2 separate regions of the Homo sapiens genome follow, and region 2 is linked to region 1. Evidence: fine-mapped expression QTL. A gene starts in region 1. The other region holds a variant in brackets. All regions are shown on one strand. Distances are between the middles of the regions. Region 1 holds the start of SPG21 (SPG21 abhydrolase domain containing, maspardin). Region 2 overlaps SPG21 (SPG21 abhydrolase domain containing, maspardin).

Region 1 (5,000 bases):
TTATAGCAGAGGAATTACAGAAATATAGTTGCTTTTAATTATTATTAATATTATTATTATTTGAGACAGAGTCTCACTCTGTCACCCAGTCTGGAGTGCAGTGGCATGATCTGAGCTTACTGCAACTGCCGCCTCCCAGGTGGGTTCAAGTGATTATCCTGCCTCAGCCTCCCCAGTAGCTGGGATTACAGGTGTGCACCACCACACCCGGCTAATTTTTGTATTTTTAGTAGAGATGGGGGTTTTGCCATGTTGGCCAGGCTGGTCTCGAACTCCTGACCTCAAGTGATCCACCCGCCTTGGCTTCCCTCAGTGCTGGGATTACAGGTATGAGCCACTATGCCTGGCTGCTTTTAATTATTTTGATCACACAGATAATATATGAATACATTTTAATATAAACTCAACTATTAAATCCAAAGTCAAAGTTCTTCACCACTCCCTCCATCCCCAGTTCCTCCTCCGAGGTAATCACTTAGCTGCTTGGTACATACCTCTCCAAACATTTTAAAAAGTGCATTCACAGCTGGGCGCAGTGGCTCACGCCTGTAATCCCAGCACTTTGGGAGGCCGAGGCGGGAGGATCACGAAGTCAAGAGATCGAGACCATCCTGGCCAACATGGTGAAACCCCGTCTCTACTAAAAATACAAAAATTAGCTGGGTGTGGTGGCAGGCACCTGTAGACCCAGCTACTCGGGAGGCTGAGGCAGGAGAATAGCTTGAATCCGGGAGGCGGAGGTTGCAATGAGCTGAGATGTGCCACTGCAATCCAGCCTGGCAACAGAGCAAGACTCCGTCTCAAAAAAAAAAAAAAGTGCATTCACTTATGTATACACATGCATAGGGATATTTCTGGATCTGGGATTATTTTGTGTGTTTTCAAACAAATATTATCCTGTGAAAAGATAAATTAAGAGGGACAGAGCCCGGGTTTGGGTAATTCTGAGAGCCAGCTGGCCATCTGTTTACTTTGCTTGGTGTTCACAGCATATTTTGTGAACATTCCAGTTTTTCTGTGAGATTCTCACAGATGAATTGGTGCTGTGGGAACCATCTGGCAGACCCCAGCCACAACAGCTGCAAATCCTTACAGCCATGTCTACCAGGTCAGCCTGCACTGGGACCTGCCTGAATCAAAAGTTTGCTGCCTGAATTTGTGCATTACAATTCAGCTGGAATTCACAGATATTAAATGTTCTTTGTTGGGATTAGGAAAGGGACAATGTGCTTGCCATGTGTTATGGAACAACTGAGGACACAAACATGACCATGGTTTCCCTTCCTGAAAGAAGTAAAACATTTATTATTTTTGGATTGGTCTACATTGTAATAAAAGTTGATATGTAACAAAACATATCTACATAGTGATTTTTTTTTATTGTCAATTGTCAAAGTTTACTACCACACTAACAGAACAATGACTTTTAACATACGGGTATATCCATAGATTAGGTCTCATTAAAGCTGTTACTAAATGGGGTCTAGGGATGGGGTCTAAGGAATACAGCTTTAGGAACAAATGTGGAAATGGGGATAGATTTATTTATTCCACTCATTAATTCATTCAATATAGTTTTTTGTTGGGAGCAGACAAGGTCTCTCGCTTTGTCACCTAGGATGTGGTGCAGTGGATTCGACATCTGGGCTTAACAGATTCTCCCATCTCAGCCTCCTGAGTAGCGGGGATTACAGGCATGCGCCACCACGCCCGGCTAATTTTTGTATTTTTTTGTACAGACAGGGTCTCCCAGGTTGCCCAGGCTAGTCTCGAACTCCTGGGCTCAATCAAGCGATCCGTCCACCTTGGCCTCCCAAAGTGCTGGGATTACAATCAATATACATTTAGTACCTATTATTTATGGGCTAATCATGTGCTAATGGACTGGTGGAATCACTCTATTCCCTTTGCTCTAGATTGAAGCTTCGAGACCACCTGGGAAAATAGACAACTAATGTAATGAATATCCATAACCAGTTTCAGAGACAACCAGTAGTTTGCAAGTTATTCCACCCATTAAACGATTCCAAATGTTGGAGAAAAGGCCCCCAACTTAAAATACTCCACGGAAACGTGCTCTATACATCTATGTGGTGCTTACAATAAAAGATGAATTCCTGCGACTGAGTTGCAACCCCGAAAGAAATGATTTAGAGAAAAAAAGAAAGAAAGAAAAAGGTAAGTATGTCACCGTGCTTTTGGAAAATGCTTTTGGGATTTGTCCAAGTTCTAGAGTGGAACCCAAGGCTCCTGGGCCAGGGGACAGAAGTGATAACTAAGTAGGATGCAATTTAGTTGGAATCTTCCCTGACCTTAATCCCATAAACAGTTGCCTAGGTAAAGGCAAAGTCTACAGGCCCTAAAACAGGGTACAAGCTTTCCCTAAAACATATTAGAGAGAGGCACTTTCAACAGGACCTTGTTGCAGGATCCCTAAAAAAAAAATTCAAAACAAGGAGATTTACATGTTATTCACCTTATCATAATTTCAGAAATATTTTACTAATAAAAAAGGAGTCGTGAAGTCTGGAACACCTTAAGACGTGACGTCTGCAACACCTTAAGAACAATGATTACAAATGTATTAATATTCTCTCTGATTTTAAGGGAAAAGTGATGAAGGAACAGGAAGATGGGTGGGCGTATGTTCCCAGAAATCCCCAGAACGTCAAAAAGGAAGCGGAGGCTTTGAGTGGAGGACTACGGAGAGCGTCTACGGTTGTGCCAAAGGAAAAAAAATGTTCCTAAGAAAAGAGTATACAAAGTTGTGTTCATCAAAGTCTGGAACCCAAAGGTGTCCCTCCAAAGCTGTACACGACAGAGAAAACGCGAACTGAAAGAAGAAGCAGGTCCCAAGGGGCCAGGCGCCTCCTCCACCTCCTCCTCCTCCTAGGTACGTAGGGCAGAACTAAGGCTGACCCAGACGTAACTCAGCCCTCTCCTCACGCCAGCCGCAGCCAAGCATCCCACGGAGCCTCCCCCCGCGCCCGTCGCCGTGGCGACCGCCGGGGCCACGCAGCACCGCCCCTTCCTCGCGACGTGGCCCCGCCCTCTGAGAACCCGGAAGCGGGAGTCTCGCGCCAGCTGAGCGGCGGTCGGGCGGGGGGAGCGCGGCGGCCCAAGCTCGCTCGGCCACGCGCCCCGCCCCCTCAGAGGCCGGCCTCCCGCACGCACCGCGCAGCCTGCTGTGCCCGTGGGTCCCGAGTGCTCCGCCGCCCGCCCCGACCCGGGCCCAGCCGCCTCCACGGCCCGCGCTCGTACTGGAGCGAAGAGCGGCCTCCTGAAGGAGGGGAAGGGACGTGGGGGCGGCCACGGCAGGTGAGGGTGGGCGAAGCCCTGGGAAGCGGCTGGGTGTGCGGTATGCGGGGTTGTAGGTGTGTGTGTGTGGCGCGTGGCTGCCTTGGTTGGTGTGACTTTGTGAGTGTGTTCTGAGTGGGCCGGTCCATGTGACCACGCACGTGATCACGTGCCCTTGTGAGTGTGTGTCTGGGGCCGAATCTGGGCTGTGGGGTGGTCGGTGTGCTTGTGACCCTGCCTTTGTGTGGCTGTCACCGGTGGGACTGGCGGGGAGCTGTGTGTGAGTCTCCAGCGGGAGGTGGGGGCGGCACAGGGCTTAACCGGGGCATCCTCCTGTAAACCCATCCTGGGGCTACACGACTGCAGCCCAGGAACATTTCTTTCTTTCTTTCTTTCTTTTTTTTTTTCTCAGCAAACTTTTAAGAACTGTGAGCAGAGGCCAGTAATTTTGGAGACAGGACCTCGGCCTGAAAGTGATAGATGTCTTTGTTGTTACTGAGTGTGGGCCAGGTGTAAGGTTTGTAAACGGGGGATGAGGAACAGAGCGGGACCGGAGTGTCTCATTTTTCCTCTTCTCGTTTTCCTGGGGAGTTATAAGTTAGACATTTATGCTGCTTCCTTTGTCTCCACCTACACTGGTTCAGCTCCTTTTGGCACAAAGATTCAACAAATTAAGGAGTAACTTTTTTTTTTTTTTTTTTTTTGAGACGGAGTCTCGCTCCGTCGCCCAGGCTGGAGTGCAGTGGCGCCATCCCAGCTCACTGCAAGCTCTGTCTGCTGGGTTTACGCCATTCTCCTGCCTCAGCCTCCCGAGTAGCTGGCACTACAGGCTCCCGCCACCACGCCCGGCTAATTTTTTGTATTTTTAGTAGAGACGGGGTTTCACCGTGTTAGCCAGGATGGCCTCGATCTCCTGACCTCGTGATCCGCCCGCCTCGGCCTCCCAAAGGGCTGAGATTACAGGCGTGAGCCATCGCGGCTGGCCACTGAGGAGTAACTTAATAGCTGTGTCCAAATTCCAAAAGCTTTTTTCCCAAGAGCATGAGAAGAGATGTCACAGATGTCAGGTAGGCACCTTTTCCTCCTGTAAGGTTTAGAGATAATGCAATGAAGAAAAGAGGGATAGATCTCCCCTGAAGAGATCTAAGAAAAGGATAGCTGTGTACTTCTGTGGTGAGGGATGGAGACGTGCATTAAAAAGCCAGTTGCATCTCCCAGAGACTCTCAGCTTCTAATATTTTGTTATGGCTAGTATTTATAAGCACAGATTTTCCACAATGCACATCAACTATAGATTGAAATAAAGTAGCAGAAACCTCTGACTAATTATGCTGGTTATGTGACTTAAACATTGATAAAGGTGATTTTGTTGACTTTAAAGTGGCAGGTTCTGTTGAAGCCATGAGGGATAGGGGCATAGTCACAACTGGCAGGTTTTTTTGTTTGTTTGTTTGTTTGTTTTTTGAGACAGAGTCTCACTCTGTCGCCCAGGCTGGAGTGCAGTGGTGTGATCTCAGCTCACTGCAACCTCCGCCACCCAGGTTCAAGCAATTCTCCTGCCTCAGCCTCCTAAGTAGCTGGGATTACAGGAGCCCATCACCGCGCCCAGCTAATTTGTTTTTGTTGTTGTTGCTGTTTTGTTTGTTTTTTTGAGATGGAGTTTCGCTCTCGTTGCCCAGGCTGGAGTGCAATGGCGTGATCTC
Region 2 (5,525 bases), 28 kb after region 1:
AAACCGTCTCTACTAAAAATACAAAAAAAATTAGCTGGACGTGGTGGTGCACACCTGTAGTCCCAGCTACTCGGGAGGCTGAGGCAGAAGAATCACTTGAATCCTGGAGGCAGAGGTTGCAGTGAGCCGAGGTCACGCCATTGCACTCCAGCCTGGGCAACAGAACAAGACTCCGTCTCAAAAAAAAAGAAAAGAAAAGAAAGCCCTAACAAACACCATCCCTTCATACTCTAACTAAATGGATAATAGAATAGCAGTGAGGGGTGAGTGCCCTGGCAGTTTGGCAAGATGAATCAAGAGCCTTAAAAAACCAGTTATATCCTGGCCACGCATGGTGGCTCACACCTGTAATCCCAAAAACCAGTCATATCCCTTGATCCTGTCATCCCCTTATAGAAGACAGGATCCTAAACAGGAATACTTGATGCCCAGAGATATTCATCATAGCAGCACTAGTCACAGTAGCAGAAGATTGGAAGGACCTAACTCACAGCAGCAGAAGGGAAGGGTAAACATCTCATGAGCATGCACCATCTAAGATGTCTCAGGAGACTCTGCAGGGACTCAGGGAGACTGCTCAGGGAGTGAGGAACAAAGATCCCAAATGTGGTTTCAAAAAATTGTTTGACTTTTCTCTATTTAGTATGTCTTAGTCTGTAAATTTTAGAAGTATAAAACATTTGTCCACTATGGTGATGTTTTCCTACCAAACTTTTTATAGAAGGCAGTATACATTTTACTCTGTAATGCAGCCATTTAAAACAATGATTCTGGCAGGGTGCAGTGGCTCACACCTGTAATCTGGCACTTTGGGAGGCCGAGGCAGATGGATCACTTGAGGCCAGGAGTTCAAAACCAGCCTGGCCAACATGGTGAAACCCTGTCTCTACTAAAAATACAAAAATTAGCTGGGCATGGTGGCGGGCACCTGTAATCCCAGCTACTCGGGAGGCTGAGGCAGGAGAATTGGGTGAACCCGGGAGGCGGAGGTTGGAGTGAACCAAGATAGTGCCACTGCACTCCAGCCTGGGCAACAAGAGTGACACTCCAGCTCAAAAAATAAATAAAATAATGATTCTGCATTTCAACAGATACATTTGCTGCAATTCCATGGAACCAAATACGCGGCCATTGACCCATCAATGGTCAGTGCCGAGGAGCTTGAGGTGCAGAAAGGCAGCCTTGGCATCAGCCAGGAGGAGCAGTAGTGTGTCTCTCGCTGTCAATGATGAGTTGACCCGGTGTGTTCTTGTATAGTCAGTGGCATCAGCACCCGTCAGCCAGCCTTTTCCTTCAGGTTCGTCAGGCTCACCGGTTCTCACTGTGTCTGGGAAGTAGGACTGATGGTCATCTTCATGACAGGCGGCATCTCCACTAAGCCTGTGTAACTGTTCCCTCTTTGGTTTTCTTAGCTTTTGAATTTGAAGAAGTACTTTTGAAGACTCCCATTTTAAGAACCGTGCAAATTTTGCTACCAAAAGTCTTCACCACTGTGTTCTTAAGTGAATGTTAATTTCTGAGGTTTGGGACTTTGTGGTGGTTTTTTTCTTCTTTTCTTTTCCATTCTTCTTTCTTTCTTTTTATGTTGTTTGCTGTAAATGCTGCACATCCAGATTGCATATCAGGACATTGGTTATTTTATGCTTTCTTGGATATAACCATGATCAGAGTGCCATGGCCACTACCCCACTGTTTGCTCTCCTGCAAATCAACTGCTTTTAATTTACACTTAAACAAATTGTTTTGAGTGTTAGCTACTGCCTTTCTAGATATTAGTCATTTGGAATAAAAATTCAATTTAACTGAGTCGCTTTTGTGATTATTGTTGCTGCCCAACTGGGCTACACAGGCCTAGGACTTTCTGAGAAGTAGGTCATGGTTGCCAATTCTGTGTGACTTTGGGTAAGTTACTTAATCTCCCTGAAGTACAGTTTGCACATCATAAAATAACCCTAAGCTATCATTTATTGATCTGCTACTGTGTGCCAGGTACTTTTCTCGTCTTCTTTCCCCTGAGTGAAAATGCTTAAACCCACATGAAGTAGAGAAAATGGCATAATGAATGATGTTCCCATCATCCAGCTTCAAAAATTATCAACTCTCAGACAGTCTTGTTCATCTTTTCTTTTTTTTTTTTTTGAGACAGAGTTTCGCTCTTGTTGCCCAGGCTGGAGTGCAATGACGTGATCTCGGCTCACCGCAACCTCCGCCTCCCGGGTTCAAGCAATTCTTCTGCCTCAGCCTCCCAAGTAGCTGAGATTA[C/T]AGGTATGCACCACCACGCCCGGCTAATTTTGTATTTTTAGTAGAGATGGGGTTTCTCCATGTTGGTCAGGCTAGTCTCGAGCTCCTGACCTCAGGTGATCTGCCCACATCAGCCTCCCAAAGTGCTGGGATTACAGGCATGAGCCACCATGCCCGGACTTGTTCATCTTTTAACCTACCCACGTTTCTTCCACACATGCTCCTATCACTAAATTATTTTAAAGCCATTTCTGGTGCTGTGTCATTTCATCTGTAAATATTTCTATGTGTACCTTTAAGATACAGCCTTAATACCATTATCACACTTAAAAATTTACCAATAATTCCTTCAATTATTTACCAATAATTCCTTCACTGGATTGTCTAATAATCCAGTGAATGTTGTCACTCACAATTATTCCATAAATTTTTTTTTATAGGTGACTTGTTCTAATCATATAAAGCCCACACTTTGTCTCTTAGATCTCTTTTGAACTGGAAGCTCCTCCTCCCTCTATTTTTTCTTGCCATATATTCAGTGAAGAAACAGGTTCATTTGCCCTGTAGTTGCCCCACAGTCCAGATTTGGCTGACTGTGGCCTCATGGTGTCCTTCCACTTGTTTCTCTGTCCCTGGTATTTCCTGTAAACTGGTAGTTACATCAAGAGGCTTGATCAGGTCAAGCTCGATCTTTTTGGCAGGAACACTGCATAGATGGGGCTGTGTGTTTCTCTCGCGTCATCTCAGGAGGCATCTGTCTGGTTGTGTCTAAGTTATTATGATTGCTGGGTGTGTTCAGGCATCACCAGCCTGATCCAGTCCTGAGAAAGTCCCCTGCTGGCTTAGCTGCCACTGCTGACCATTGCACAGGTGCATCATTCCATGAGGGGTTGCAGGTCAGTGATAATATTAATTTTTATCATTCCTTCTGCATTTATTAACTGGAAATTACCGATTTAAAAAAACAAAAACTTGCCCTCATCGACTGCTTGGTTTCGCTGAGATACAATTTAGACAGAAAAATAAGCATCAGTGCTTCTTTCCCTTTATGTGCCAGGTTTCAGAATATTGGGTTGGCCATACCTTCTTAGACTTCATCCCCAATACAGCCCTGATTATCCTGACTTTACAGGTGAGGACCTGGAGACTGGGTCAGGCAGTAAGGGGTGGAGCTGGGATGCCACCTTGAATCTGACCATCCCTAAAGCCAGTGATCTTTCCACAAAGGGGCCACATTGTCTTCTCTATCTGTGGCTTGACAACAGTCATGAGTTATGGAAACACTTGGTAAACCATAAGGGCGAAGCTTGACATTTTAACTAGTAGCGTCTGAGGCTACTAGAGCCGTCTAACAACTTTAACTACTCCCCAGCTCTGCCCCCTGATGACTGCAAGTTGTCATTGCCAGCCCTGATCAATTTTGAGTACTGGCCTTGAATGCGTACTCAGGCCTATTAGGCCAGCCTTCAACAGGCATCTCAGCCTTCGACAGGCAACCAGTCAAAAGCTATGCCCATGGCCCCACTGCCCAAACCTGCCCTTCCTCTTCTAGCCCCATTTTCTTAGGTCCTGGCATCACTATTTCTTGGAATCCCCAGTTAGAAACTCAGCCATCTTGGACCCTCCACCCCCACTCACTCCTCCACCCCCATGTCTCAGGCTGAAGCGGATGCAGAGATGAAAATTTGGGTGCAAGATGTTTATTAAGGATCAACATCTGTGGCCTGGTGTGGTGGCTCACACCTGTAATCCCAGTACTTTGGGAGGCCAAGGGGAGTGGATCACCTGAGGTCAGGAGTTCAAGACCAGCCAGGCCAACATGGAGAAACCCAGTCTCTACTAAAAATACAAAAAAATTAGCCAGACCTGGCGGCACGTGCCTGTAATCCCAGCTACTCAGGAGGCTGAAGCAGGACAATCACTTGAACCAGAGTGGCAGAGGTTACGGTGAGCTGAGATGGTGTCACTGCACTCCAGCCTGAGCAACAGAGTGAGACTCAATCTCCAAAACAAAACAAAAAAACAACATCTGTGAAGGGAAGATGGATTGGGCAGAGAGCGAAATTGAACTGTGATGCAGGCCCGATCAAGTACCCACCAACTCAGTAGGGCACGCAGGAGCTTGAAGCACCCACTGGAATATTTTCATGGAGGACTAAAATGGCTGGGTCTCTATGCTCCCGCGTAGCTCAGTTCCCAGAGGCAGCTGCCCTGGGGAGGGCAGGGTGTTGGGTGGGGCAACTCTCTGCAGCTGAGGCAGACCCTGAAGGGCTGACAGCTGGAGGCCATCTGCCCAGCTCACTCCTGCAGCTGGATGGAAAGGCCTTCCTGGAAGAAGGGGGTCCGGGCAATGCATTTCCACATCTACTACACCTATATCCCCTGACTCTCAGAGATCTAGCAACTTGCCTGCAAACTTGAGCCTTCCTCACTACAAGTTAGGCCTTGGCATCTTTTGCCCAGACTACTACAGTCCTCACTGGCTCCACCAGCCATCTCCTCCCACCCCCACCCATCCTCTGTGTGGTCCACACACAGGTCTGATCTTGTCACTTGCCAGTGCATGAACACTAAGGGACCTCTGTTGTGGAAATCAGACTAGTTTCAGAAACTCTGAAGTGGGGCTGTAACCATTTAGTGAAGCTCTGCACACAGGAAGAGATGCGGGGAGCAACCTCCACTAAGAGCCAGGGACTCCTTCACCTCAGTTCTTAACCTGGGAGTTTTATGGGTTCATTTTGATACATGATGTGATCCAGGGCCTGTACCCGCTTCTAGAAGTTATCTTGGGATCCACAGGAGAAAGACTTCGCACTTTTTAAGTATATAAACCTGCAGACTATATGTGAATAGTTTTAAGTACAGTATATATCTTAAAAAGGGGCCAGGCACAGTGGCTCACGCCTGCAATCCCAGCACTTTGGAAGGCCAACCCAGGCAGATCACGAGGTCAGGAGATCAAGACCATCCTGGCCAACATGTTGAAACCCCATCGCTACTAAAAATACAAAAAAAAATTAGCTGGGCGTGGTGGCATGTGCCTGTAATTCCATCTACTTGGGAGGCTGAAGAGGAGAATCGCTTGAACCAGGGAGTCGGAGGCTGCAGTAAGCCGAGATCGCACCACTGCACGCCAGCCTGGCAACAGAGGAAGACTCCGTCTCAAAGAAAAGGGAGGGAGTAACTGTAAGTAAATATCCATTGGAAAAGTGATTTAAATATACATTTTAGAAACAAGGAGAGTCACAATTAGCAAGGTAAAGTAGACTCTGAAAGGACAAGCA

Evidence for each region. PIP is the estimated chance that this variant, and not a neighbour inherited with it, causes the effect.
Region 2: its variant is fine-mapped to the expression of SPG21 in whole blood (TOPMed, PIP above 0.99).

Annotation. Positions count from the first base shown.
Region 1 is chr15:64,987,983-64,992,982 of GRCh38, reverse strand. It overlaps SPG21 (SPG21 abhydrolase domain containing, maspardin), which reads left to right and starts at 3,069. Exons shown (of 9, transcript NM_016630.7): 1 at 3,069-3,318. RefSeq lists enhancers at 2,636-2,695, 2,736-2,805, 2,861-3,360, 3,361-3,862 and silencers at 2,876-3,365, 3,486-3,535, 3,338-3,632.
Region 2 is chr15:64,959,303-64,964,827 of GRCh38, reverse strand. SPG21 (SPG21 abhydrolase domain containing, maspardin) reads left to right here. Exons shown (of 9, transcript NM_016630.7): 9 at 1,092-1,806. The coding sequence ends at 1,208. Among named protein-coding and RNA genes, the nearest start is that of SPG21, 28 kb to the left of the region's middle. The variant C/T (reference allele first, on the strand shown) is at 2,263.